4 linked regions of the Homo sapiens genome follow. The protein of the gene in region 4 purifies or fractionates together with the protein of the main gene of each other region. This does not show direct contact. Each region holds a gene or a part of one and is shown on either strand. Other genes may lie near its edges.

Evidence for each region.
Region 1: the proteins of CLK2 (region 4) and ACIN1 purify together in Homo sapiens (affinity purification with mass spectrometry; 4 studies listed by BioGRID and IntAct, with this or other methods). This does not show direct contact.
Region 2: the proteins of CLK2 (region 4) and LUC7L purify together in Homo sapiens (affinity purification with mass spectrometry; 4 studies listed by BioGRID and IntAct, with this or other methods). This does not show direct contact.
Region 3: the proteins of CLK2 (region 4) and PNN purify together in Homo sapiens (affinity purification with mass spectrometry; 4 studies listed by BioGRID and IntAct, with this or other methods). This does not show direct contact.

What each region holds. Positions count from the first base shown.
Region 1 is NC_000014.9:23,058,033-23,064,143, reverse strand, and holds the end of ACIN1 (apoptotic chromatin condensation inducer in the nucleus), read left to right. Parts: coding exon 1-39; intron 40-566; coding exon 567-708; intron 709-1,069; coding exon 1,070-1,215; intron 1,216-1,620; coding exon 1,621-1,728; intron 1,729-1,868; coding exon 1,869-1,976; intron 1,977-2,521; coding exon 2,522-2,846; intron 2,847-2,959; coding exon 2,960-3,060; intron 3,061-4,669; coding exon 4,670-4,996; 3' UTR 4,997-5,580; downstream 5,581-6,111.
Region 2 is NC_000016.10:226,449-233,750, forward strand, and holds the start of LUC7L (putative RNA-binding protein Luc7-like 1), read right to left. Parts: upstream 3,002-7,302; 5' UTR 2,892-3,001; coding exon 2,831-2,891; intron 1,955-2,830; exon of another isoform or gene 889-1,954; coding exon 794-888; intron 1-793. UniProt on the Homo sapiens protein: May bind to RNA via its Arg/Ser-rich domain.
Region 3 is NC_000014.9:39,178,240-39,183,744, forward strand, and holds the end of PNN (pinin), read left to right. Parts: intron 1-851; coding exon 852-1,007; intron 1,008-1,084; coding exon 1,085-1,223; intron 1,224-2,263; coding exon 2,264-3,624; 3' UTR 3,625-4,981; downstream 4,982-5,505. UniProt on the Homo sapiens protein: Transcriptional activator binding to the E-box 1 core sequence of the E-cadherin promoter gene; the core-binding sequence is 5'CAGGTG-3'. Capable of reversing CTBP1-mediated transcription repression.
Region 4 is NC_000001.11:155,270,505-155,278,457, reverse strand, and holds the start of CLK2 (dual specificity protein kinase CLK2), read left to right. Parts: upstream 1-4,953; 5' UTR 4,954-5,257; intron 5,258-7,480; coding exon 7,481-7,650; intron 7,651-7,953. Other genes in the region: HCN3 (potassium/sodium hyperpolarization-activated cyclic nucleotide-gated channel 3), read right to left, coding at 590-867. UniProt on the Homo sapiens protein: Dual specificity kinase acting on both serine/threonine and tyrosine-containing substrates. Phosphorylates serine- and arginine-rich (SR) proteins of the spliceosomal complex.

The sequences.
Region 1 (6,111 bases), on a different chromosome or scaffold from region 4:
CATGACAAGGGGCTGAAAATATGCCGGACAGTCACTCAGGTAAGGCTTCTGCACCCCAGTGTCAGGGGAAAGGTGGGAGCAGTAGATGCAGAGCAGCTAGCTGAGGAGCTGAGATAAAGTCTTTGGAGGGAACTTCCCTGTCTGTGCAGAGGGTTGGGTTGACTGACACTTTCAGGGGTCAGACTACCAAATCCAGCTGGCTACCTGTTACAAATAAAGTTTGATTGGAACACAACCACACGAGTTCATTCACTTTTGTCTGTGGCTGTTTGTTCACTACAACATCACCAGAGTTGAGTAGTTGCAACAAACTATGTGGCCTGCAAAACCTGAAGTACTGCTTTGCTCTACAGAAAAAATTTACTAACTCCTGTCTTAGTTTTCCTCAAGGCAAAGTTGAGGCACTAACAATCCCAGGATCTGGTAGAAGTGAGCCGATAACGAAATACCCCTAGCGGAAGGAACATGCTAGATTGACTGCTACTCTTACCGGGGAACCAGAGGCTGAAAAGAATATGCCAGTTTGGTGTTTAACAGACCTGCTGTGTTCTCTGACACCTTGATAGGTAGTACCTGCAGAGGGCCAGGAGAATGGGCAGAGGGAAGAAGAGGAAGAAGAGAAGGAACCTGAAGCAGAACCTCCTGTACCTCCCCAGGTGTCAGTAGAGGTGGCCTTGCCCCCACCTGCAGAGCATGAAGTAAAGAAAGGTGAGTGACATATTGTGAGAGAAATGTAATGCGGCTCCCTGAATTCTCAGAGCACCTCATTTGGATCGCTGAAAGCTTTGAATGTTTCCTGCCTTTCATTATATTTTTTCGTATATCATATCTTTCTCCTACATATTAAGTAAGCTACTTGAGGGCCAGATTTGACTCTGTTTAATCTTTGAATCTCCATGATGAGGAGGTTAGCCTAGCACAGTACTTTGCAGATTATAGGTGCTCTGCACGTTTAGATTAAGGAGTGGCTGCTTGGTATAAAAGAAAGGGAACCGTGAGAGTTACATTGAGGGTGAAAAGAGCCAGTATTGCTTCCTACCAAAAGCTGTTCTTGTGGTCTTCTTGATAGTGACTTTAGGAGATACCTTAACTCGACGTTCCATTAGCCAGCAGAAGTCCGGAGTTTCCATTACCATTGATGACCCAGTCCGAACTGCCCAGGTGCCCTCCCCACCCCGGGGCAAGATTAGCAACATTGTCCATATCTCCAATTTGGTAAGTCATTGTTTCTCACCATCCCAGCTTGCTTAGTGGTTAAGTTTGAGCTTTAGGCTTATGCCTCCTAGGTTCCACTCATAGTTGAACTGGTCTACCAATAGATTAAGTTACTCACTGATCTTGAGTGAGTTACTTAACATATTTACCCATCTAAAAATGAGGGGGAAAAGCTGTTGCCCTGCAGGGTTGTTTTGAGGACTTGCAGAAGGCCTCACATACAACGTCTCAATTAGTGCTGGGAAGCACCACCACTCTTCTCACATTCTTACTGCAAGGTTCCTAAACTCTCTGCCCTCCCCCAAACCTTGAAACTATACTCCTGTGACAGCAGCTCGGGAAATCTAAAGATTGGGTGGTGGTCTTGCCTTCTGCTAGACCCTGAAAGTCTATTTTCATTGGCAGGTCCGTCCTTTCACTTTAGGCCAGCTAAAGGAGTTGTTGGGGCGCACAGGAACCTTGGTGGAAGAGGCCTTCTGGATTGACAAGATCAAATCTCATTGCTTTGTAACGGTGAGGGGAAGAAGCTGATTCTATAGGTCATGGCATATATTTCCTTTTGTGACCAGTGTGGGCAGGTTTAAGGGTGTTGCAGCACGTGGGAAGGGTTGCAGACACACTGTGACCCTCCATCTTCTCCCTTCCTCCACCAGTACTCAACAGTAGAGGAAGCTGTTGCCACCCGCACAGCTCTGCACGGGGTCAAATGGCCCCAGTCCAATCCCAAATTCCTTTGTGCTGACTATGCCGAGCAAGATGAGGTAAGAAACCTAGGGAGAGGAAAGAGAGGAGGGGCAGGGGAAGCCATTATCTGCTAGATTTCAGCTGAGATCCTTGCCAGACCTGCAGTCTCTGAGCTTCTGTTCTTTTCTCTTCTTCCCTGGCTTTGGTTCCTTTAATTGTACCATGGGGCTTCAAAGTGGTACCTGGGCTCCTTTTTTTTTTTTTTTTTTTTTTGAGACAGAGTCTCGCTGTCTCCCAGGCTGGAGTGCAGTGGCGCGATCTCAGCTCACTGCAAGCTCCGCCTTCCGGGTTCACGCCATTCTCCTGCCTCAGCCTCCCGAATAGCTGGGACTACAGGCGCCCGCCACCACGCCCGGCTAATTTTTTTGTATTTTCAGTAGAGACGGGGTTTCACCGTGTCAGCCAGGATGGTCTCGGTCTCCTGACCTCGTGATCTGACCGCCTTGGCCTCCCAAAGTGCTGGGATTACAGGCGTGAGCCACCGCGCCCGGCCATCCTGGCTCCTTGAGTGGGAGTGATATCACCTCTATCCTAACTGTCCTTGTCCCTCCTCTCCCCACAGCTGGATTATCACCGAGGCCTCTTGGTGGACCGTCCCTCTGAAACTAAGACAGAGGAGCAGGGAATACCACGGCCCCTGCACCCCCCACCCCCACCCCCGGTCCAGCCACCACAGCACCCCCGGGCAGAGCAGCGGGAGCAGGAACGGGCAGTGCGGGAACAGTGGGCAGAACGGGAACGGGAAATGGAGCGGCGGGAGCGGACTCGATCAGAGCGTGAATGGGATCGGGACAAAGTTCGAGAAGGGCCCCGTTCCCGATCAAGGTCCCGTGACCGCCGCCGCAAGGAACGTGCGAAGTCTAAAGAAAAGAAGAGTGAGAAGAAAGGTAGGTACTTAGCTATGGGGTACGCATACCCACTAGTAGGTGGGAAAGGGACCCAGATGGGATGGGACAGAGGGTCAGATGCATCATATCTGGTTCACTTTTTTCCACCTCAGAGAAAGCCCAGGAGGAACCACCTGCCAAGCTGCTGGATGACCTTTTCCGAAAGACCAAGGCAGCTCCCTGCATCTATTGGCTCCCACTGACTGACAGCCAGGTGAGTGCTCTTCTTCGTGCCCTGCTCCCTAGTGGCACTGAGGCTTGAGGTCAGGGTGAGGGGAGATTCATGTGACTGCGAGAGTGAGTCGGCCCAAGTACTTCCTAGGTTTAGGATAAACTAAGCATCACAAAAAGGCAGTTTTCAGTTAATTGGTATAACATAGAGAAACCAGACTCAGGAGGGTAAAGATAGACACGCAGATAGCAGCTGAAGTTTGTGGATGTCTGGGAAGCTGGCTGTGCCGACCAGGCTTCTTAGAACTTGATTTTAGGCCGTGCGTGGTGGCTCACGCCTCTAATGCCAGCACTTTGGGAGGCCGAGTCGGGTGGATCACCTCAGGTCAGGAGTTGCAGACCAGTCTGGCCAACATGGAAACCCTGTCTCTACTAAAAATAACAAAAATTAGCCGGGTGCAGTGGCAAGCGCCCGTAATCCCAGCTACTTGGGAGGCTGAGGAGGAGAATTGCTTGAACCCGGGAGGCGGAGGTTGCAGTGAGCAGAGACCGTGCCATTGCACTCCAGCCTGGGCAACAAGAACAAAACTCTGTCTCAGACAATTAAAAAAAAAAAAAGAACTTGATTGTATTTAGCTGAGAAATCGTGTTTTATAAATTCATTTCCCTGCTTTTTAAGAGTTTTTGCATCTTTAACTTAGTTTCTTAGTAATGGGCCTTTTGGGAATTTTAGGCTTATGCTACTCAAAAAAGAGATTTGTTCACATCTACGCTGACGGTAGGGAGCTAGGGAAATACCAAGGGCCAGGCATGGATGGTGCCAGTACCTGTCAATGTGTGTAAAAGTTGAAACTTGGTGGCTAGGCATGGTGGCTCATGCCTGTAATCCCAGCACTTTGGGAGGCTGAGGTGGGCGGATCATCTAAGCCTCCATCTAAGCCAGGAGTTTGATACCATCCTGGCCAACATGGTGAAACCCCATCTCTACTAAAAATACAAAACTTAGTGGGGCATGGTGGCAGACACCTGTAATCCCAGCTACTAGGGAGGCTGAGGCAGGAGAATCACTTGAACCTGCGAGTCGGAGACCACAGTGAGCCAAGATAGCACCACTGCACTCCAGCCTGGGCGACAGAGTGAGACTGTCTCAAAAAAAAAAAAAAAAAAAAACTGGCGGGGCGCGGTGGCTCACGCCTGTAATCCCAGCACTTTGGGAGCCTGAGGCGGGCGGATCACGAGGTCAGGAGATCAAGACCATCCTGGCTAACAACGGTGAAGCCCCGTCTCTACTGAAAATACAAAAAAATTAGCCGGGCGTGGTCGCGGGCGCCTGTGGTCCCAGCTGCTCAGCAGGCTGAGGCAGGAGAATGGTGTGAACCCGGGAGGTGGAGCTTGCAGTGAGCCGAGATCGTGCCACTGCACTCCCAGCCTGGGCGACGGAGCGAGACTCCGTCTCAGAAAAAAAAAAAAAAAGGCTGAAACTAGGAGGGAGAGAGGTGCTCTAAGAAAGACAGGATGCAGTTGTTGAGCCCCCAACCCCTTCCTGTTTAACTGAAAAGCTGACCCTGAGCTAGGAGGCAGGGTCCAGGCACAAATGGAGGCTGTGACCAGGACTGAGCTGCCTATTCTCTGCCTTTCCTACCTGGCTACAGATCGTTCAGAAAGAGGCAGAGCGGGCCGAACGGGCCAAGGAGCGGGAGAAGCGGCGAAAGGAGCAAGAAGAAGAAGAGCAAAAGGAGCGGGAGAAGGAAGCCGAGCGGGAACGGAACCGACAGCTGGAGCGAGAGAAACGTCGGGAGCACAGTCGGGAGAGGGACAGGGAGAGAGAGAGAGAAAGGGAGCGGGACAGGGGGGACCGAGATCGGGATAGGGAAAGGGACCGAGAACGAGGCAGGGAAAGGGATCGCAGGGACACCAAGCGCCACAGCAGAAGCCGGAGTCGGAGCACACCTGTGCGGGACCGGGGTGGGCGCCGCTAGCTGGGAAAACACTAGAGCTGCAGGTACCAGCCACTCGGCCCCAGGGGGTTATGGCCACAGAGGGATAGGCACAGTCTCCACCACCCTGGAGCCAAGGGTCTTTCACATCACCTATCCCTACATACATACCAAATGGAAAAGTGGCCATCCTTTTCCCCCCAAACACACCCCCTTAACCTATCTCTTGGGACTTAGCCCGACCCTCCCTCTCATTTCCCATTAAGTCTGAGAGGCAAGAGCTAGGTTAGGCAAGGAGGTGGTTGGCCAGAGATGGGGAACAGCCAGGTGCCCCAGTCCTCTGATTTTTCCTCCATCCTGCTTACCACCTCCCTGGGTACTTACAGCCTTCTCTTGGGAACAGCCGGGGCCAGGACTGGGTCACCTATGAGCTGAATCAGCATCTCCTCCTGAGTCCCAGGGCCCCTGCAGTTCCCAGTCTCTTCTGTCCTGCAGCCCTTGCCTCTTTCCCACAGGTTCCACTTTATATCCACCTTTTCCTTTTGTTCAATTTTTATTTTTATTTTTTTTATTATTAAATGATGTGGTCTATGGAAAAAAAAATAAAAATCTGACTTAGTTTTAAACTGTGTGAGTGGCTTTCTTTGGGCAGGTTAAGAAGCCACTGTGGATATCTGAGCGTGGACATCTGAGGATATCTGGAGTAGGAGTTGCTCTCATTCCATGTGTTCCTTTAGGCTGACTGCTTCCTGCTTATTGAACTTCCCACGTCTTTTATCCCCTGCCTTGGCCCTGACCAACCCAAAGCTGTGGACCTTCCTCATTCGGGAAGGCATGGAGCAACCTGTGTCCGTGGCGGCACCCCAGCAGGGCTAGGAGGGTGGGTCCTCTTCTGGTTCCTGGTCCTGTGCACGGTTAAATTAGGGGTTTGGTCACCTGCCTGCCACCTTGGTGCCTCCCACAACTACCACCAGGGGGCGGCAGCTCCTCGCTCTGTTGGCCCCTGTAACCGAGCTTCCCAAGAAGGGTTCCACTGCCCGCCTCCGACCTCCCGCCGATGTCGTGCCTCTGTTCCCGACCCGCTCCCTGGGCCCGGGCCTCGGACTCTCTGGACCCTTCTGCCGTCCTTAAGTGTCCCCCAGCTGACCTGCTACCGT
Region 2 (7,302 bases), on a different chromosome or scaffold from region 4:
ACATTATACAAAGCTAGCGTTTATCTGTTTTGTTCATCTGAAGTGAACTTAAAATTGTAGGGTTCTATATTCATTAGATAGCATGTTGATTTCTTGAAGGGGTGGCACAACACAAAACTACAAAATCAATGTATCCTCAACTGATTTTTAAAAACCAAAAAATTGCGGGAAGAAAATGTACCTTGCTAGATCAAAAGTTTTCCACACAACCAACTTGAGGTCAAACAAACCCACGCAGAATCTTCAAAGAACTTCAGGCTGACCTAAAGCATATTTTTTGCTACAGCCAAATTAGAATACTTGCCCTATTTAGTTGTGAATATCTCAGTATAAATGACTTTACAAAAAATCTGGTAACTTTACAGACAGAATTTTACAACAGTGAAATTTGTTCCATAATATAAAATCCTACCAAATGAATAGAATCTATCATTTTAAGGGCATCAGGGATTTCTGCCTGTTGAAGAGTGGAGGATTGAGAAAGGAGCAGTGGCTCATGCCTGTAGTACCAGCTGCTCAAGAGGCTGAGGTGGTAGGATTGCTGGAGCCCAGGAGTTCAAGGCTGCAGTGAGCTGTGATCACACCACTGCACTTCAGCCTGGGCAACACAGAGTGACACTCCATCGCATGCATGCATGCAAACATACATACGAGTGGAGGAACACCTGCCATAATTAAGCCACTTAGAGAAAAAGAGACTTAAGTTAAAACAAAATTCAACATAGAAAAACCGTCACTGCCTATACAGCACTCATGTCAGAGTGTTCCATGAGGTCCCCCAAAATGCACCTACCGTCCCAGCCAGGATGTCATGGGGGCAGCAGTCCAGAAGGTGACTCTTGCAGACACGGTCATCTGTAAACTTGACCCTCTGTCTGGTTTCGTCTCCTGAAATTCATTTGTGGTTTTAAATAAGACAATATTATCACATTAACCACCAAAAAATAACTAGTATAACAATTCACCTGGATGATTTGCAGACTATCATTTCTGTGTTCTCCCCATCAAATGCAATGAAAAGCTGATCTAAAGATATTTACAACTGGAGTGGAATACACATTTTTTTGAGGCTAGTTATATCATGGAGAATCACACTTAATGAGATCTGACTCCATCACTGTACCAAAGAAGTCAAGGAGTCAGACGTAAACAGCTGAGCACCAAAAGGCCATTGGCTCCACATATACATGTGGCAATGAGACTGCAAAACCCAAGCTAATCAGAGGTCCATGAACCACCAAGGGTGACTTATAGAGCTGGTAATTTCCACCAACAAAAGCTACTTATTAATCTAATCTTTTTGTTATGAACAAATGCAGAGGCAGTATTTTGCCCAAAATTGAATGAAGAAGAAAGCTTTCAAACTCTATCGAAGACTGTTAAATAATCTAGATCTATTCTTCCTACGTCCCTTTCGTTCCCACCCTTAAAAAAGAGAGTTGCTACCTGGGAGTCACTTTTAACAAGACAATACCAAAAAAAGCAAAAAAGGAACTAGGTTAGTCAATACACACTGTGAGCTCCAACACATACTGTACCCATCTGCATTCTTCAAGACCTCAGCTGCAGAATTTTATGCCCGCTGTTGAAAAGTGTTAAAGGAAAAGTTTTCTTGCCCACACCTGCAGTAAGGAAGTCGGGGGAATGATACATAAAAGTAAAGGTAAAGTGGTATGTGACAAATTTTAAAGCTAGTCTGTGTATACAACACAGAGCTGTGCAACGCTAGAGGAGGAATATATTTTAGGATTTGCAAGCATCCAGGATTAATGTAGTGTCTTTTTATTGAAAATGTTTTCTTTCTAAACTACACTTTTAAAGTTACTTGTGAAAAAAAGCAAACACTTTTTTGTTATAACAGCTTAGAAATTGGTTGTGACTCACGGCTCGATGAACATGAGGCTTTCTGCAACTCCCTTGCAGATTGATGTAGGCAGGCAAAGATACACTGAACCTTTATAAATAAAATAGAGGGGCCACAATTGTTCAGTTTGTATGAAATAAAAATATGGGAAGCAATTCAAAAGCAACTCAATATACAAAGAAAGCTAAAAAGCACTTATTCACCTATGAAATAAAGTGCAAATAATCTGCACAGCCCTGAGAATGTGCCAGTGTGAACTTACAACTTCATTACTCAGCAGAAAAGAAAACACAAACCACAGCAGGTATATAGTTTTGCAAAGATGCAACCGCTTTCTCCTGTGACAACCATCATGATCTTGAGCTCCTCCCTACACAGTACAACCTACCTAACGACTGTCAAGCGCTGGCTACACAGAGGCTCTCCTGTGTGCTGGGGGGAAGGGGGCAGCTGGAAAAGTACTTGGCAGAAACCCACGTTAGAAAAGCTCAGTTTACGGTTCCCCTTGCAATGGTACAGAACCAGAGCGGGCCAGGTTTTCGAGGCCCATCCGGCTCCCTCGGGTGTAGCTTCTTCCCAAGGAGCCTCGGAAGAGTTCTGCCACCCGGCTGCCAGCGACCTGGAGCCCACGCTGATTCCAGCCCTCCGCCGACTCCACAGTTCGCGGAGGGGCACGGAGCCGCGGCGCCCGCCGGGGAGGAAGTAGCAGGACGGTACATAGGAAGGAGGCTGAAGCCCCATCCATGGCGCAGACTCCGAGAGAGGAGCCCGACCTGGACCCACGGCCGCCTCAGAGACGCACCGGCTTAGACAAAGGCCCGGCGCCTGCGGTCGGAGCGCGGGGGAGGAGGAGCGATGCCCCGCGCAGGCGCAGGCGCAGACGATCGCGGCCCCCGCCTCAGGCCGCCCGGCGGCCTCGCCTCACTCCCACCCCAGACCCTCGCCTGGTTGGCCGCTCTGACTCACCGTCCCGAGCCGTGCCCATGAGCTGGTCCAGCAGGGCCCGCATCTGCGCCTGGGCGGACATGGTAGCCGGCGGAGGCGACGGGGTCGGCCGCGACGACTTCTCTCAGGCAGGCGGTGGCAGCGGCGTCGACAAACGATGGTCGCGTCGGCCTCGAGCCCACTCGGCTCTTTCCCGCCGCGGGGGACGCCGGGAGGAAGTACGACGGCGCCGGCGCACGCCCTGCTGGGAAATGTAGTTTCTGGGGTGGGTGCTTAGGGAGGCTGAGGCTCTGAGTGGTCGCAAGTTGTCCAACGGCGGAACCAAAATCCCAACCCTGATTTTACTCTAGACCCCCAGGACCTCAAACGAGTCTCTACGGAGGGTAAACTACAATAAAATGAAATACAGTCAATCAAAAACAAGATGAATCCGTGCTTTTTCTAAGCTAGCCATGAAACCGTGAGCATATTATTTAGCTCCCCGACGCTCGTTTTTTTAAATCTGTGAAATGAGGGTTCTAAAGGTGCCCCTCATATGATTTTTGTGAAAGTTAAATAAAGCATGGAATTTTATTTATTTATTTATTTATTTATTTAGAGCGAGGGTCTTGCTCCGTCGCCCAGGCTGGAATGCAGTGGCGCGATTACCGCTCACTGCAGCCTCGACCTCCCCGGCTCCTTATCCTCCCGCCTCAGCCCGGCAAAGTATTGGGATTACTGGTGTGAACCACCACGTTTGGCCATCAGTCATGGCATTAATATTAGGTTCTATGATTACAACCTCGTGGTCGTCCTTTTGTGAGCTCATGGTCTACTGTCCCAGGGACTAAAGAAAAGGCATATGTAAGCAGTTATTTTATGTGATAATAGAATTATAGCATGCACTTATGTGTGCATAGTCTGGCATATACTTCTATTATATTAAACCTCTATTATTTATTTATTTATTTTTGAGACGGAGTTTCGCCCAGGCTAGAGTGCAATGGCGCGATCTTGGCTCTCCGCAACCTCCGCCTCCTGGGTTCAAGCGATTCTCCTGCCTCAACCTCCCAAAGTGCTGGGATTACAGGCATGAGCCACCACGCCCGGTCTTTATTTTTTATTTGTTTATTTTTTTTTTGAGACGGAGTCTTGCTCTGTCACCCAGGCTGGAATGCTGTGGCGCGATCTCGGCTCACTGTAAGCTCCGCCTCCCGGGTTGAAGCGATTCTCCTGCCTCAGTCTCCCCAGTAGCTGGAATTTCAGGCGCCCGCCACCCCCTCCGGCTAATTTTTGAATGTTAAGTAGAGACGGGGTTTCACCATGCTGGCCAGGCTGGTCTCAAAGTCTTGACCTCAAGTAGCCAGCCACCATGCCCAGCTGATTTTTGTATTTTCGGTAGACACGGTGTTGTACCGTATTGGCCAGGCTGGTCTTGAACTTCTGACCTTGTGATCTGCCTGCCTCGGCCTCCCAAAGTGCTGAGATTACAGGCGTGAGCCACCGCGCCCTGCCGTATTTTATTTATTTTTGAGACGGAGTCTCCCTCTGTCGCCCAGCCTGGAGTGCAGTGGCGCGATCTCGGCTTCCTGCATCCTCTGACTCCTGGGTTCAAGCGATTCTCTTGTCTCAGTCTCCCCAGTAGCTGGGATTACAGGCACCCGCCATCATTCCCGACTAACTTTTTTTTTGTACTTTTGCAGAGACGGGGTTCCGCCATGTTGGCCAGGCTGGTCTTAAACTCCTAACCTCAGGTGATCCGCCCACCTCAGCCTCCCAAAGTCCTCGGATTACAGCTGTGAGCCAGAACGCCAGGCCCCTGCTCTCTATTTAAAATAAATAAATAGGGTGTCCGTTGGGCTGCTCGGGTCGGATTCCGCGGTGCCAGCCCTTCCCCATGGCCGACCCTGAGAAGTTGCAGGTTTCTTCGCCGCCCCCGCCGCCTCCTTCTCCCTCCTCTTCAGACGCCTCTGCAGCATCTTACCCTGGCAGCCCAGTGAGTTTGGGCTGGCCAGTTCCGAGCAGGAGCAGCGGCCGAACGGTGGACCCGCTGGAGGAAGTGGGGCTGCAGATCGGAGACGCAGCCTTTTCATTAACCAAACTTCTTGAAGCCACATCTGCAGTATCAGCTCAAGTGGAAGAACTTGCCTTCAAATGTACAGAAAAGGCACGTTTCCTTAAAACGTGGCGGGACCTATGGAAAGAAGGCTATGATTCTTTGAAACCTGATGACTAATTTGGCATACTTCGTTGTTTAATAATGACTGCAATAATTCATACTTCTTCTTATGTCATATTTGTACGTGTACCACACGTATAGGATGACCTCTGTCCAGCAGTTCTGTATATACTCAGAATGAATTTTTTCTTGGTTTTCTTGGCTTTTCTGAAAGCAGAATACCGATGCTATTTTTGTTGCGGACCAGTACTTGTTTGTCCTTACATACTTCATGCCTCTGAACTTTCGTAGAATCCTTTATGAAAGTTAACTTCATCAATAGATGGTTAATATTAATAGAGCCACAGGGCTACCAGCAGCAAACTAGGTGGACCATTATTTGTTTTGAAACAAGATGCTAAGCATGGCAGAGTTTGAAGTTGCATTTCATCTTAAGGACCAAGGGAGGTAACTTTAAGGTTGCCAGTGGTGGATCCAGCTCCATTAGGCTACGTTGTCTACAGCTAATGATTGTGCTTCATTCTGTATCCCCAGCACCTAAAACAGGGTCACACAACACTCACTGTTGGTTGAATACAAGAATTAACAAACATAAAAATAAATAAATAAATATAGGCCGGGTGTGGTGGCATGTGCCTCTAGTCCCAGCCACTCGAAGCTGAGGTTGGAGGATGGATTGAGCCTGGGTGGTTGAGGTTGCAGTAAGCTGTGATCACACCACTGCATGGCAGCCTGGGCAAAAGAACGAGACCCTGTCTTGGCCAGGCACGGTGGCTCACACCTGTGATCCCAGCACTTTGGGAGGCCAAAAAAAAAAAAAAAGAATGAGACCCTGTCTCAAAAATGAAATTAAAACTTAAAAAACATGCCAGGCTGGGGGCAGTGGCTCATGCCTGTAATCCCAGCACTTTGGGAGGCCGAGGCAGGCGATCACCTGAGGTCAGGAGTTTGAGGCCAGACTGACCAACATGGAGAAACCCCATCTCTACTAAAAATACAAAATTAGCCAGGCGTGATGACGCATGCCTGTAATCCCAGCTACTCGAGAGGCTGAGGGAGGAGAATTGCTTGAACCTGGGAGGCAGAGGTTGCGGTGAGCCGAGAATGCATCATTGCACTCCAGCCTGGGCAACAAAAGCAAAACTCCCTCTCCCCCCGGCCAAAAAAAAGGCCGATCACAGTGGCTCACGCCTGTAATCCCAACACTTTGGGAGGCCGAGGTGGGTGGATCACAAGGTCAGGAGTTCAAGACCAGCCTGGCCAACATGGTGAAATCCTGTCTCTACTAAAAATACAAAAAAACTAGCCTGGTGTGGTGGCACACGCCTGTAGTTCCAGCTACTCAGGAGGCTGAGGCAGGAGAATCACTTGAACCCAGGAAGCGGAGGTTGCAGTGAGCCAAGATTGTGCCGCGGCACTCCAGCCTGGGCGATAAAGGGAGACTCCATCTCAAAAAAAAAACAGGCCGGGAGTGGTCTATTTTGACACTCCACCTCAAAAAAATTAATTAATTAAAAAATAAAATTTAAATTTTAAAAAATCATTTCACAAATGATAATTTAATATGATTGCTGCCCTGGAAGGGGGAAAAAAGACTTACTCTAAGAATACAACAAAGACTGTTCATGGGCTAGAAGCATCAAAAGTCCAGACACGGTTAGACAAGTTTTGTTTTCATTTATTTTGAGACAGAGTCTCACTCTGTCGCCCAGGCTGGAGTGCAGTGGCGCGATCTCAGCTCACTGCAAGCTCCGCCTCCGAGGTTCACACCATTCTCCTGCCTCAGCCTCCCAAGTAGCTGGGACTATAGGCGCCCGTCACCACGCCTGGCTAATTTTCTTGTATTTTTAATAGAGACGGGGTTTCACAGTGTTAGCCAGGATGGTCTAGATTTCCTGACCTTGAGATCCACCCACCTCGGCCTCCCAAAGTGCTGGGATTATAGGCATGAGCCACTGTGCCCGGCTGACAAGTTTTAAATAATGTTTTAAGGCATGACTTTGCTTCCAATTGGCCATTTGAACAAAGCAATTAAATCATCTGAATTACGCACCTACCAAACTGCCACAGTTACTAGAAATCAGACAACTGCCAGGCACAGTGGCCCATGCTTGAAATCCCAGCACTTTGGGAGGCCAAAGCAGGAGATCACTTGAGTCCAGGAGTTCAAGACCAGCCTGGTTAATATGGCAAAACCCCATGTCTACAAGAAAGGAAAAAAATTAGCTGGGCATGGTGGCTTACAGCTGTAGTCCTAGCTACTCCGGAGGCTGAGGTGAGAAGATCACTTGTGCCTGGGAAGCAGAGGTTGCAGTAAGCTGTGATCCCGCCACTG
Region 3 (5,505 bases), on a different chromosome or scaffold from region 4:
GTGAAGCGGCCAGGTGCAGTGGCTCATGCCTGTAATCCCAGCACTTTGGGAGGCTGAGGCAGGTGGATCACCTGAGGTCAGAAGTTTTTCGAGACCAGCCTGGCCAACATGGTGAAACCCTGTCTTTACTAAAAATACAAAATTAGCCGCCTGTGGTGGCATGCGCCTGTAATCCCCAGCTATTTGGGAGGCGGAGGCAAGAGAATCACTTGAACCCTGGAGGTGAGGTTGCAATGAGCCAAGATCACACTATTGTACCCCAGCCTGGGCAACAGGCGCAAAACTCCATCTCAAAAAAAGAAAAAATGTGAAGCATATGCAGATACCTTTTTTTTTTCTTTTTCTTTTTTTTTGTAGAGATGGGGTTTTATCATGTTGCCCAGGCTGGTCTGAGCTCAAAGCAATCCACCCACCTCAGCCTCCCAGAGTGCTGGGATGACAGGTGTGAGCCACTGTGCCCGGCCTGCAGATACCTTTACATAGTGAAAAAAAAAAAAAAAAAAAAAATTTTTTTTGAGATGGAGTTTGGCTCTTCTTGCTCAGGCTGGAGTGTAGTGGCGTGATCTCAGCTCACTGCAACCTCCGCCTCTGGGGTTCAAGTGATTTCTCCTGCTTCGGCCTCCCAAGTAGCTGGGATTATAGGTGCGTGCAACCACGCCCTGTTAATTTTTTTGTGTTTTTAGTAGAGATGGTGGTGTTGGCTTCTGACTTCAGATGATCTACCTGCCTCTAATGTTTCACGTAATTAGTATGTGTAATAACTTTTTATCATAATTGAACTGAAATCATATATACCTTTTGTTGTAACTATTTCAACACGTAAGTATTAAAGCAGGCTACTTAACTTTTAGCAAAAGCGGCGCCAGGAAATTGAACAAAAACTTGAAGTTCAGGCAGAAGAAGAGAGAAAGCAGGTTGAAAATGAAAGGAGAGAACTGTTTGAAGAGAGGCGTGCTAAACAGACAGAACTGCGGCTTTTGGAACAGAAAGTTGAGCTTGCGCAGCTGGTGAGTGGTAATTTGGAATTCTAAGATTGGTAATCCTTTGTGTTTACAAAAGCACTGACCCTTTACCTTTTCTTTAGCAAGAAGAATGGAATGAACATAATGCCAAAATAATTAAATATATAAGAACTAAGACAAAGCCCCATTTGTTTTATATTCCTGGAAGAATGTGTCCAGCTACCCAAAAACTAATAGAAGAGTCACAGAGAAAAATGAACGGTAAGTATGCGAAGAGGTCCATTGAATTGTTCATAGTGGGTAAGGTAATATGTTCATATGCACACGTTTGTTTTCTAAAATAATTATGATTCAGTGATTGGTTTGCTGTGTTTGCTTTTTTTTTTTAAATAAGATAATAAGATATTCTAGGCCGGGCGTGGTGGCTCACGCCTGTAATCCCAGCACTTTGGGAGGCTGAGGCAGGCAGATCATGAGGTCAGGAGATCGAGACCATCCCGGCTAACATGGTGAAACCCCGTCTCTAGTCTCTACTAAAAATACAAAAAAAATTAGCTGGGCATGGTGGTGGGCACCTGTAATTCCAGCTACTTGGCAGGCTGAGGCAGGAGAATCACTTGAACCTGGGAGGCAGAAGTTGCAGTGAGCCGAGATTACGCCACTGAACTCCAGCCTGGGCAACAGAGCTAGACTCCATCTCAAAAAAAAAAAAAAAGATACATTCTGAGATGCTGGTGAGTTTGTAGTATAGGAATATTTGTATCATGATGGAGTTTAATGTGAAAGTTATAGACAGTGCTTATGCATCTGTATTCCTTAAGCATTTGTGTAAAATTACTTTTTTTTGCATGCTATTATTGTTCTGATAAAATGCTAATAAGACAAATGTGAAAACCAACTCAGTTTCTAGATGGAAAACACATGGAAGGATAGACACTGCTAAGATGATGATTTATCTCTTTGGGATCAGAAAAATTAATATATATGATTTTATGCCAAAACTGGTTCTGTTTTACAGAAGTTTTATTTTTCATCAGACATAAAGATTGATCTGTTTTCTTCATCAGTTAGAAAATGTGTAGTTCTGTCTGCCACAATTTCTAGTATGTAGATTTCCCATGGATCTTTGCTTTTATAATTTTATGTCAGTTTGTGGTTACTTAATTGCCATAATCTTTTGTCATAACTTTACAAAAACAAATTCAGATGAAGCTTAATGACAATTTGTGACCAGTTATAAAATTATGGCTTTGAATTTTCTTAATCGGTAAATTTTACACATGTAAATTTTTATTCTTTAGCTTTATTTGAAGGTAGACGCATCGAATTTGCAGAACAAATAAATAAAATGGAGGCTAGGCCTAGAAGACAATCAATGAAGGAAAAAGAGCATCAGGTGGTGCGTAATGAAGAACAGAAGGCGGAACAAGAAGAGGGTAAGGTGGCTCAGCGAGAGGAAGAGTTGGAGGAGACAGGTAATCAGCACAATGATGTAGAAATAGAGGAAGCAGGAGAGGAAGAGGAAAAGGAAATAGCGATTGTTCATAGTGATGCAGAGAAAGAACAGGAGGAGGAAGAACAAAAACAGGAAATGGAGGTTAAGATGGAGGAGGAAACTGAGGTAAGGGAAAGTGAGAAGCAGCAGGATAGTCAGCCTGAAGAAGTTATGGATGTGCTAGAGATGGTTGAGAATGTCAAACATGTAATTGCTGACCAGGAGGTAATGGAAACTAATCGAGTTGAAAGTGTAGAACCTTCAGAAAATGAAGCTAGCAAAGAATTGGAACCAGAAATGGAATTTGAAATTGAGCCAGATAAAGAATGTAAAACCCTTTCTCCTGGGAAAGAGAATGTCAGTGCTTTAGACATGGAAAAGGAGTCTGAGGAAAAAGAAGAAAAAGAATCTGAGCCCCAACCTGAGCCTGTGGCTCAACCTCAGCCTCAGTCTCAGCCCCAGCTTCAGCTTCAATCCCAGTCCCAACCAGTACTCCAGTCCCAGCCTCCCTCTCAGCCTGAGGATTTGTCATTAGCTGTTTTACAGCCAACACCCCAAGTTACTCAGGAGCAAGGGCATTTACTACCTGAGAGGAAGGATTTTCCTGTAGAGTCTGTAAAACTCACTGAGGTACCAGTAGAGCCAGTCTTGACAGTACATCCAGAGAGCAAGAGCAAAACCAAAACTAGGAGCAGAAGTAGAGGTCGAGCTAGAAATAAAACAAGCAAGAGTAGAAGTCGAAGCAGTAGCAGTAGCAGTTCTAGTAGCAGTTCAACCAGTAGCAGCAGTGGAAGTAGTTCCAGCAGTGGAAGTAGTAGCAGTCGCAGTAGTTCCAGTAGCAGCTCCAGTACAAGTGGCAGCAGCAGCAGAGATAGTAGCAGTAGCACTAGTAGTAGTAGTGAGAGTAGAAGTCGGAGTAGGGGCCGGGGACATAATAGAGATAGAAAGCACAGAAGGAGCGTGGATCGGAAGAGAAGGGATACTTCAGGACTAGAAAGAAGTCACAAATCTTCAAAAGGTGGTAGTAGTAGAGATACAAAAGGATCAAAGGATAAGAATTCCCGGTCCGACAGAAAGAGGTCTATATCAGAGAGTAGTCGATCAGGCAAAAGATCTTCAAGAAGTGAAAGAGACCGAAAATCAGACAGGAAAGACAAAAGGCGTTAATGGAAGAAGCCAGGCTTTCTTAGCCATTCTTTGCAGCAGAAGATTTCTTGATAAAAAAGGATTACCTTTCCTTGTAAAGAGGATGCTGCCTTAAGAATTGCATGTTGTAAAAAATCTTTTTGGAAAATACAGACTGTTTGTTTACCAGACATTCTTGTACTTTTTGCATAATTTTGTAAGAGTTATTTATCAAAATTATGTGAGGTTCCAAAATATGTAAAAATGATAATAATAAAAAAAGATTAACATCCCTTGTCATCTTTTTTAAATATCCTATACTCTTCAGTAAGAATCTGTATATTTTAATAGGCAAATCTTTAAGTCTGTTCCCTTCTAATTCTGTATCATACATTGCTTTTGTAGAAATAAATGTGTGTTTATTTCATTATTTTTGGGATGTCCTCGTTGACACTTGTATAATAAATATCCTCTTTATCATTTTCAGCTTTTAACACTAGATACTGCACGTGATTAGAATGTTTTTGAAGGTTTCCTCGTTTTTATTTGCCTTGGACAGTTTTTAGTTGTCAGAGTCAGAGCTTTGCAGCTTTGAGGGGGAACAGTTCTCTTTAAAATCATTTGCTATTTTCTATTCTCCCTTGTTATTTTAATCTAAGCATTTTCCCCCGTTTCTCATATTTTAACCATATGTTCGGTAGATAACTAAACAGTATGATCTGGTTGGCATTTTCTTCCTGATGATGGGAGCGTCATTCTTTTGTCTTCATGGTTACTTGTGTGATATAACATACATCTGTTAAAGAAAATCACTTCTTTCTAGGGGAGGGAGGTAGAAAAGTATCTTTCAAACTTGGTTTTTGAGTTTGTGTCTTGTCTTAACTTTGTGTTGGCTCTAACTTAAACATGCTGATATGTGTTTTCAAGAATTTTGTTTAAGGAAGTATTGTATGGAAGTCCACAAAATGAAGGAAGTTCATCTAGGTTTTAATATGTAAGCAAGATAACACACAAGTGTACCAAGTGATTATTAACTTTGTTGTTTTACAAATTTGTATGAACTTGGAGTATCTGTTGGCCATTACTATACATGTGCAAATAAATGTGGCTTAGACTTGTGTGACTGCTTAAGACTAGTACTTGTATTAACTTTCTGATGCTTTATACAAGAGAGCACTTAAATTGCATCCTTCTTTGAGTTTAACACTGTAGCTTTAGCCTTGACTTTGAATATTCATTTTGCCTTCCCTTGACAAGTAAATGGTTACAGTGAAAATGTGAAGAAGTATTTCCAGTTAGTTTTTGTGTGTATATAACTCACTTGTGTAAGTGGATGTGTTAAAAGATCTCTTTTTAAAAATCCTTTTATTGGAGTAATTATTAAAACAGTAAATGCATAGAGCTTTGCACAGCAATCTGTATCCATGAGCCAGTTCCACCACTAGTACCTTCATCTGTGGCTTATCCAGCAAAATGTTTCATTTCCTGTGTGCCCTGGCAGGAAAGAGGTTGGTAAATAGTGAATTAAAGGGATGATCATAAAATTTAACCTGGTTAAAAAGCACCTTATTTGATGACAGTTTGTATGCACTAAAATCCTTTATACAAATTAAGTTTTGTCTACTGATTTGTACCTGGAAAATCTGAACAATATTCATGTTGCTTACAGAAAAGGCTAGTATTGGCTTGAAGCTCTACTATAGGAGGGGTAGTAATGGGGGTATAATGAATGCTTGAGGGGAAAGTAATTTTCAGTAATTTCAGTTAAGCGCTACTGATCATAGTATGTGAAAGGAATTTTTCTTATATGGAATGCTTGATGAATTTGCATGTCATCCTTGTGCAGGGGCCATTTTAATCTTTTTTTTTTTTTTTTTTTTTCTCGGAGACAGGGTCTTAGTCTGTCACCCAGGCTGGAGTGCA
Region 4 (7,953 bases):
GCTTTGCCGCCTCAGTCACTCTGAGTCTCGGCCCCGCCCCGCCGCCCCCGCCTTCAGCACTAGGGACAGCGACCAGAGCTGAGGTCTGGACCCCCCGCCCCCTTCAGCGTCCCTATTTTTCCTGGTAGTCTGTCATGCTGAACTAGGCAGGTGCTAAGGAGCGGGTGTGGGGATGGGAGATGGCGGAGCTCGGCTTCTCCCTCAGACTGGCCCCGATACTTAGAATATAATTTCCTAGATCTCCAGCAAGCAGGACTGGAGGAGGCAGGGGTCCCAAACTCTGGTAGTTCCTTTGGTCCGGATGGGGTCCCGGGTTCCTGAAAGAGGAAATCCAGGTCTCTGGAGATCCCCTGATGTCTGCTTGCCCCTTCTGGTGCCCCCAGCCTGTCCAGGCACGGAGGACCTCCGGCAGGGGATACCCGCCCAGGAATTCCCAGGCTAGACTGGTGCAAGTGACTCTCCCGCCCCACCAAGGGACCCCGGGCTGGAAATGAAGTGACCGTGGAGGGTGGGGCGGGCCGGGTCCCGGTGTCGCTGCCCGCGAGGGTGGGATTGATGTACCCTGCCCTCCCCGCCAAGCCCCCAATACCGGAAGTCGCTGTAGGGGTGGATGATCCAGGCCCCCGCTGACTTCACCCGCTCCTGCTCGATTTCCACTGCTTTGTGGCTGCCGAACACCCGAAGGGAGAACTTGTTGACCGTAGGCTGGAGCAGCGTCCCAAGGTGCCTCCTCTTAGGCTCAGGCCCAGATTTGGGGATCGGACCTGAGGCCGCGGTCGCAGGCGGGGGAGCAACGGGAGGCACCGCCTCCAGTCCAGGGGTCGCCCCTTCGCTGGCCCCCGCCGCCGGCCGCTGCTCTGCCTCCATGGCGCCCACCCCGCTTACACGCTCGGCCTCCTAGAGCCCTCTGTGGCCATCAGGTACCCGCAACCCCTCCAGAGCAGGAGTCGGCGCAGCCCCGCGGGCTCTAGCGGAGGCGTCGTAGGCTCGGAATCGCCGGCGCGCGGGGCGGAGGGGGTGTGTGCTAGACTGGCGGGCGGCGGGCGGGCTGCGCGGCGCCCCCTGGCGAGGGCCGCGCCAAGACCGGGCGGGGCTGGGACGCCGGGATCCTGGAGGAACTCCGAGAGGGGCGTGGCTTAGCAAAGAAGGCGGGGAGCGCAGCCTGAGCCAGGGAGAGGGCGTGGCCTAGCGTTGGCCTTTCATCCACTGAGAACCAGGGAGGAGGAGCCCCCTGCAGTGGCGGGAAAATCGGACGCGGGTTTGTAGCTTGAAGGACTTGGGAGGGAGAGGGATTGGGGACCAATGGAAGAAGTGGAAATGGCTTTTGGGATTCTTCTCCACTCTCGCCCAGGGACTTCTGTCCTGCTCCCGTCTTCTCTCAACACTGTCCTAGGCATATTCTTGTCTTTTGGTCTCCTCCGAACTGCTTCCCCTAGTATTTAATTTCCTAATTCATTCTGTCAGCCTTCACCAAGTGCAACTCTGCCTGTCATTGAGTGGATGCTGAGGAAACAAAAATGAATACAAAAGTCCTAGTCTTAGCATCTCCATGTAGTAATGGAAAACAACACAAAACAAAACAAAAACAAAGGCCTAGCCATAAAGCCACTGCTCATCTGTGCCCAACGACAGACAGGTAAATTGCAGTGCTATGCGAAGTGCTACAAATTCCTAAATATCTCAAATTCTCCCCTTCATCTCCAATTCTTATTACCACTGCCTCATTTCAAGCCCTCAGCATTTTTTCACTTAAATTACTTCGGAAACCTCTAAAAGAGTCTTCAACCTCTTCCAGGCCAATTCTTCTTCCATTCCCTGCCAGTTACCTTCCTAAAATCCAACTATGGCTGTGTCACTTGCTTGAAGCCCATCAAGCTTTCCCATCTTCTACAGGGGTACATTTAAGCTGCTTAGCATGGTGTACCAGGCCCAAAAAATTTGGACCTAGTTTCAACAGTCTCTCTTCTGACAGTCCCTCTCTTGAAAGCCACAGCCCCAATCATGCTGAAAGACTTTGTGCTGCCTTGTCTCTATGCTTTTGCAAATATTTTCTCTGCCTGGTATTCTCCTCCAATTCACTTTCGAACAGTTGGTTCAGATCTTGCTTTCTCTAGGAAACCTAGGAACACATTTCCAACTCTCCTTTCCTCAGGTAGGGTCTATTCTAGAGCTTTTTTACAGCAGCCAGGGCACCACTGTTTTGAGCAACTCATGTCACAGGGCTACCATTATTATTATTATTTTAGAGATGAGGTCACACTATGTTGCCCAGGCTGGTTTTGAACTCAGAGCTCAAGTGATCTTCCTGCCTTGGCTTCCCAAAGTGCTAGGATTACAGGCATGAGCATGGTCTCATTATTTATTTACAGATTTTCTCTCCTGTTAGATTGTGAAACTCTGAGAAACAGGAACCTTGCACCTGGCATAATTCTGGACACATAGTGGACATTCAGTAAATGCTTGTTGAATGAATTAATAATCTAGGAAAATGTTCCAGGAGGTGGAAGTGAAATCTTTACTTCTCTCTCCCCGACTCCTTCATTGATTGCTCTCCATGTTCTATTCCAGGGAACTTCTCTAAACTATGTCTGGTTATCTGATCTAACCTCCATCTGACCATCCTTCATCCAGCTCCTCTCTAATATTTCCTGACTTTATTTATTTACTCATTCTAGAGTCAGGGTCTTGCTCTGTTGCTCAAGCTGGAGTGCAGTGGTGTGATCATGACCCACTGCAGCCTCAAAGCAATCTTCCCACCTCAGTTTCCTGAGTAGCTGGGACTACAGGTGTGAGCCACCTTGCTCAGCTCCCTGACTTTAATATCGTTATTCTCAGATTATATTATTTCTCTTTCAATTGACCTTTCTGACCACTTCTCAATTCCTTCTGTAAAGTCTCTAACTCTTTCTCTTTCTCATTTTCTTTTTTTCTTTTCTTTTCTTTTTTTTTTTTTTTTTTTTTTGAGATAGAGTCTCACTCTGTCGCCCAAGCTGGAGTGCAGTGGCACGATCACGGGTCACTACAGCCTCAACCTCCCCAGGCTCAGGTGATCCTCCCACCTCAGCCTCCCGAGTAGCTGGGACTACAGGTGGGAGACACCATGAATGGCTAATTTTTATTTTTTATTTTATTTTATTTTAGACACAGTCTCACTCTGTCGCCCAGGCTGGAGTGCAATGGCACCATCTCGGCTCACTGCAACCTCCACCTTCTGGATTCAAGCGATTCTCGTGCCTCAGCCTTCCAAATAGCTGGGATTACAGGCACCTGCCATCACACCCGGCTAATTTTTGTATTTTTAGTAGAGACAGGGTTTCACCAGGTTGGCCAGGCTGGTCTCGAACTCCTGTGCTCAAGTGATCCACCTTCCTGGGCCTCCAAAACTGTTGGGATTACAGGCATGAGCCACCGCGCTTGGCCTAATTTTTGTATTTTTTTTTTTTTTTTTTTTTTTTTTTTTGAGACGGAGTCTCGCTGTCGCCCAGGCTGGAGTGCAGTGGCGCAATCTCGGCTCACTGCAGGCTCCGCCCCCTGGGGTTCACGCCATTCTCCTGCCTCAGCCTCCCGAGTAGCTGGGACTACAGGCGCCCGCCACCTCGCCCGGCTAATTTTTTGTATTTTTAGTAGAGACGGGGTTTCACCGTGTTAGCCAGGATGGTCTCGATCTCCTGACCTCGTGATCCGCCCGCCTTGGCCTCCCAAAGTGCTGGGATTACAGGCGTGAGCCACCGCGCCCGGCCTTGTATTTTTTTAAGAGTCTGGGTTTTGCCCTGTTGCCCAGGCTGTCTCAAACTCCTATGCTTAAGTGATCCACCCACGTTGGCCTCCCAAAGTGTTGGTATTACAGGCGTGAGCCACCTCGCCCAGCCTTCCTGTTCTTTTTTAAGATTTAGTAAACTGGCCAAGCGCCGTGGCTGATGCTTGTAATCCCAGCACTTTGGGAGGCCGATGGGGGAGGATTGCTTGAGCTCAGGGGTTCAAGACTAGCCTGGGTAACAAAGTGAGGCACTATCTCTACAAGAAAAAAAAAAATAGCTGGGCGTGGTGATGCGCGCTTTTTTTTTTTTTTTTTTTTTTTTTTGAGACAGAGTCTCGCTCTGTCACCCAGGCTGCAGTGCAATGGCCCGATCTCGGCTCACTGCAACCTCCGCCTCCCGGGTTCAAGCGATTCTCCTACCTCAGCCTCCTGAGTAGCTGGGATTACAGGCGCCCGCCACCATGCCCGGCTAATTTTTGTATTTTTAGTAGAGACGGGATTTCACCATGTTGATCAGGCTAATCTCGAACTCCTGACCTCGTGATCCGCCCGCCTCGGCTTCCCAAAGTGTTGGGATTATAGGCGAGAGCCACCGCGCCCGGCCCTAGTAAACTTGTATTTCTCACACATTATGTAAGCCACCTTAGGATACAGTTCTCAAGTAAGTCCCCCTTTTCGGCACCCGATTCTCCAACCCTCCATTGCTCAAACCTTTCCTCCATGGCTGTGTCCCCACCCCGAGTCGTGCATAACTTTTGTTGATGACAAAAGGTGGCAGACTTTTGTCCTGGGGATAGGTAGGTGAAGTGTTTTAAGAAATGGTTATTTTCAGGCTATGCAGAAGAATGAGACTTCACCATCAAGCCTCACTACAGTCAGGCTTGCAGAGCAGCGACACTGTATTGACAATGACAATCCTTTCTTTTAAACTCCAAACCTAACTAAGCCACACGTCTCCATGCAAAGGGTAAAAGATTGAAGACGGAGTGGGAAAGGACAGGAGGCGGGGCATAGCGGGCCTGGAAGGCTTCCAGCTTGTCCCTGTGGACCCTCCTCGCCCCTATGAACTTCCGCCCCCAGTACCTCCGAGGCTCTGACAGGCGGATGCCTGCCAACTACGTGAGCACGTGGTGGCGCGCGCGGTCCTGGGGGCGGAGCCCAGGGGGTAGCTGGGAAGCGACGCAGGACGTCGGTCCGTGCGTACGTGCTCGCTCACGGCGGCGGCGGCGGAGCGGAGAGGCCAGAGCCGGAGACCGAGCTGGGATCGGGCCCCGGGCGGGGGCGGTGCGAGCGGCGCCAAGCAGATCTTAGGGGCGGGGACGGAGCCGGGGCGGGCGGGACTGAAGCGGAGCCCGGGAACGGGGCGGGAGGTCCCAGGGTCCCGGGTTGGGGGGGTGGAGCAGCATTTCGTCGCCGCGGGGGTGCCGGGACTCCGGCCGCAGTGTCGCCGCCATCACGGACTTCCTGTGGGACAAGCGCACGGGCCTCGCCGCCAGAACGGTGAGCGCGCGGGTTGGCTGGCCGCGCGAAAAGATGGCGACCGCGGGGCGGGCGGGGTTAGGCTTGGGTTGGGGGCAAGGGACGGGGGCGAGATTTGGAGAGGAGGAGAGTTGAGACCTACGAAGCGACGGAGTAGGGAGATGAGGGGGAAGGAGGTCGGCCTGCGTTAGATGTACCAAGAAGACCTGTAGGAAGCTTGGGCGGAACCAGACTAGAAGGGATGATAGAGTAAGGATGGGAGTGGTTCCAGAGATGTGAAGGAGTGGAATATCAAAGTTGGACTCGGGTCCAATCAAAGCTGGAGGGGAGGAATACATCACCGTGTCACTTGGAACATGCAGGAAGAATTTGCCTGTAGGAGTTCTGGATTTTCTGAGTAAGAAAGGAAAAAGCAAAAGATTTCAAACTTGAGAAAGGTAGGCTAGTGATGTTTTGAGGGGACAGTGCTGTGAGGCCGTTTGATGGTAGTATGTGGTGAGATGGCATTTATGTGGCTATGCTGATTAGGATAACTATGCTGGGAAAATCTTGTGCTTGCAGCTTGGTATGCTACCGGCCCCAGTTACACCAAGAATGCATCAAATACCACCCTCCTCAATTTGGGGAGGTTGGGAAGAAGTGATACAGAATGGTGGTCAGACATCGGAATCATTAAACCTTTTGCATACGCGATTCTCATACACCCCCACCAAGACTTATGTCCCTGGGCCTGTTTCATTTTATTGTGCCTTCCTATTCTCATCTTCCTGGATTGTGACAGTGATTTTTCTCTTTTTTCCTTGAAGGAAAAAAAGGATTTGTGAACCATCCCATTCCAATTCCATTAACTGGAAGGTGGCCAGCTGTCAGCTAAGTAGGGCTGATATTAATTAAAAACCACTTACTGGCCAGGCGCGGTGGCTCACATCTGTAATCCCAGCACTTTGGGAGGCCAAGGCGGGCGGATCACCTGAGGTTGGGAGTTCGAGACCAGCCTGACCAACATGGAGAAACCCTGTCTCTACTAAAAATACAAAATTAGCTGGGCGTGGCGGCGCATGCCTGTAATCCCAGCTACTCGGGAGGCTGAGGCAGGAGAATCGCTTGAACCCTGCAGGCGGAGGTTATGGTGAGCCGAGATTGCGCCATTGCACTCCAGCCTGGGCAACAAGAGCAAAACTCCGTTTCAAAAAAAAAAAAAAAAACACAAGAAACAGTTGTTATCTACGTCTTAAGCACAAGAGTGGAGGGGCCAGATGGGATGCTGACTGTATTTTGTGGCCTACTACATTAAAACCTCTCAAGGGAGAGTTGGCCAAAGATGTGAGAGATGATTAAGTTAATTCAAGGGGCCCGACCCAGATCCCTGGAGCTGATAGTATTTGGCGTTTACCTGGTATATGTAGAAACCTGGGAGACTGGATTCCTACCCTCAGGACACTGATAGTCTACTTGAGGAGATGAGATGTACTCTTAATGAGTGTACAACATTTATCATAACTGTAAACCAAAGCTTTACTCTATTGACTTGTGAGGAACTCAGCATCACACAGATCTATATCTTAGATCCTGAACGGGGATACACTGTGGCAGTCTCCATCGGTCGTCATACACTTTGCTCTGTAGTGAACTGTGTCCTAGACCTGAAGGTCTTCATGGAGCTGTGTTTGAAGAAAATAAGGATAGAACACTTGAACTGGCTGGGTGCGGTGGCTCACGCCTGTAATCCCAGCACTTTGGGAGGCCGAGGCAGGAGGATCACGAGGTCAGGAGTTTGAGACCATCCTGGCCAACATGGTGAAACCCCGTCTCTACTAAAAATATAAAAATTAGCCAGGAGTGGTGGTGCGTGCCTGTAATCCCAGCTACACAGGAGGCTGAGGCAGGAGAGTTGCTTGAACCTGGGAAGTGGAGGTTGCAGTGAGCCGAGATTGTGCCACTGCACTCCAGCCTGGCCACACAGCGAGACTCTGTCTCAAGAATAAAATAAGAACACTTGAACTGAGGGGTGGGTAATGAGGGATGGGTTTGGGGGCTTTCTAGAGTTTCAGCCAGAGTTAGTAGGTGGCTGTACTCCAATAAGGAGGAATTGTAAGTACAGAGGAAGACTGAGGAAGTTGTGCCTGGTAAAAAGAGGCAGAAATAAGAGGGGAAAGCAGCTTAGCATCTTTGGAGCAGCCAGTCCTTGGAGGAGATTTCTGAAAACTCGAAACTTTCCTATTTCCGCTTTCCCTTGCCTTCCAGATGCCGCATCCTCGAAGGTACCACTCCTCAGAGCGAGGCAGCCGGGGGAGTTACCGTGAACACTATCGGAGCCGAAAGCATAAGCGACGAAGAAGTCGCTCCTGGTCAAGTAGTAGTGACCGGACACGACGGCGTCGGCGAGAGGACAGCTACCATGTCCGTTCTCGAAGGTGAGGCCTCAGGAAGAGATACTCAAACACAGGGTCACTCGCTCATTCCTTTGTTCAACAAATACTTATTGGTTATATGCTAAAACCATTGCCTTAAGTAGCTGGCTGAAGGTAATGTCGGGATAGATAACCAAAGAAGCCATTTGGGCTGCAGTGTTAAGTGTTAGAATACATAATGAGGAACTGAGGACGTACCCAGTGCGTTTGGTTGGAGTGGGGCAGGATGTTAATTCAGATAAAACATTGCAGAGAAAGCAACATCTGTATATGTCTGGAGGACAAGTAGAGTCAGGTGGGGGAAGT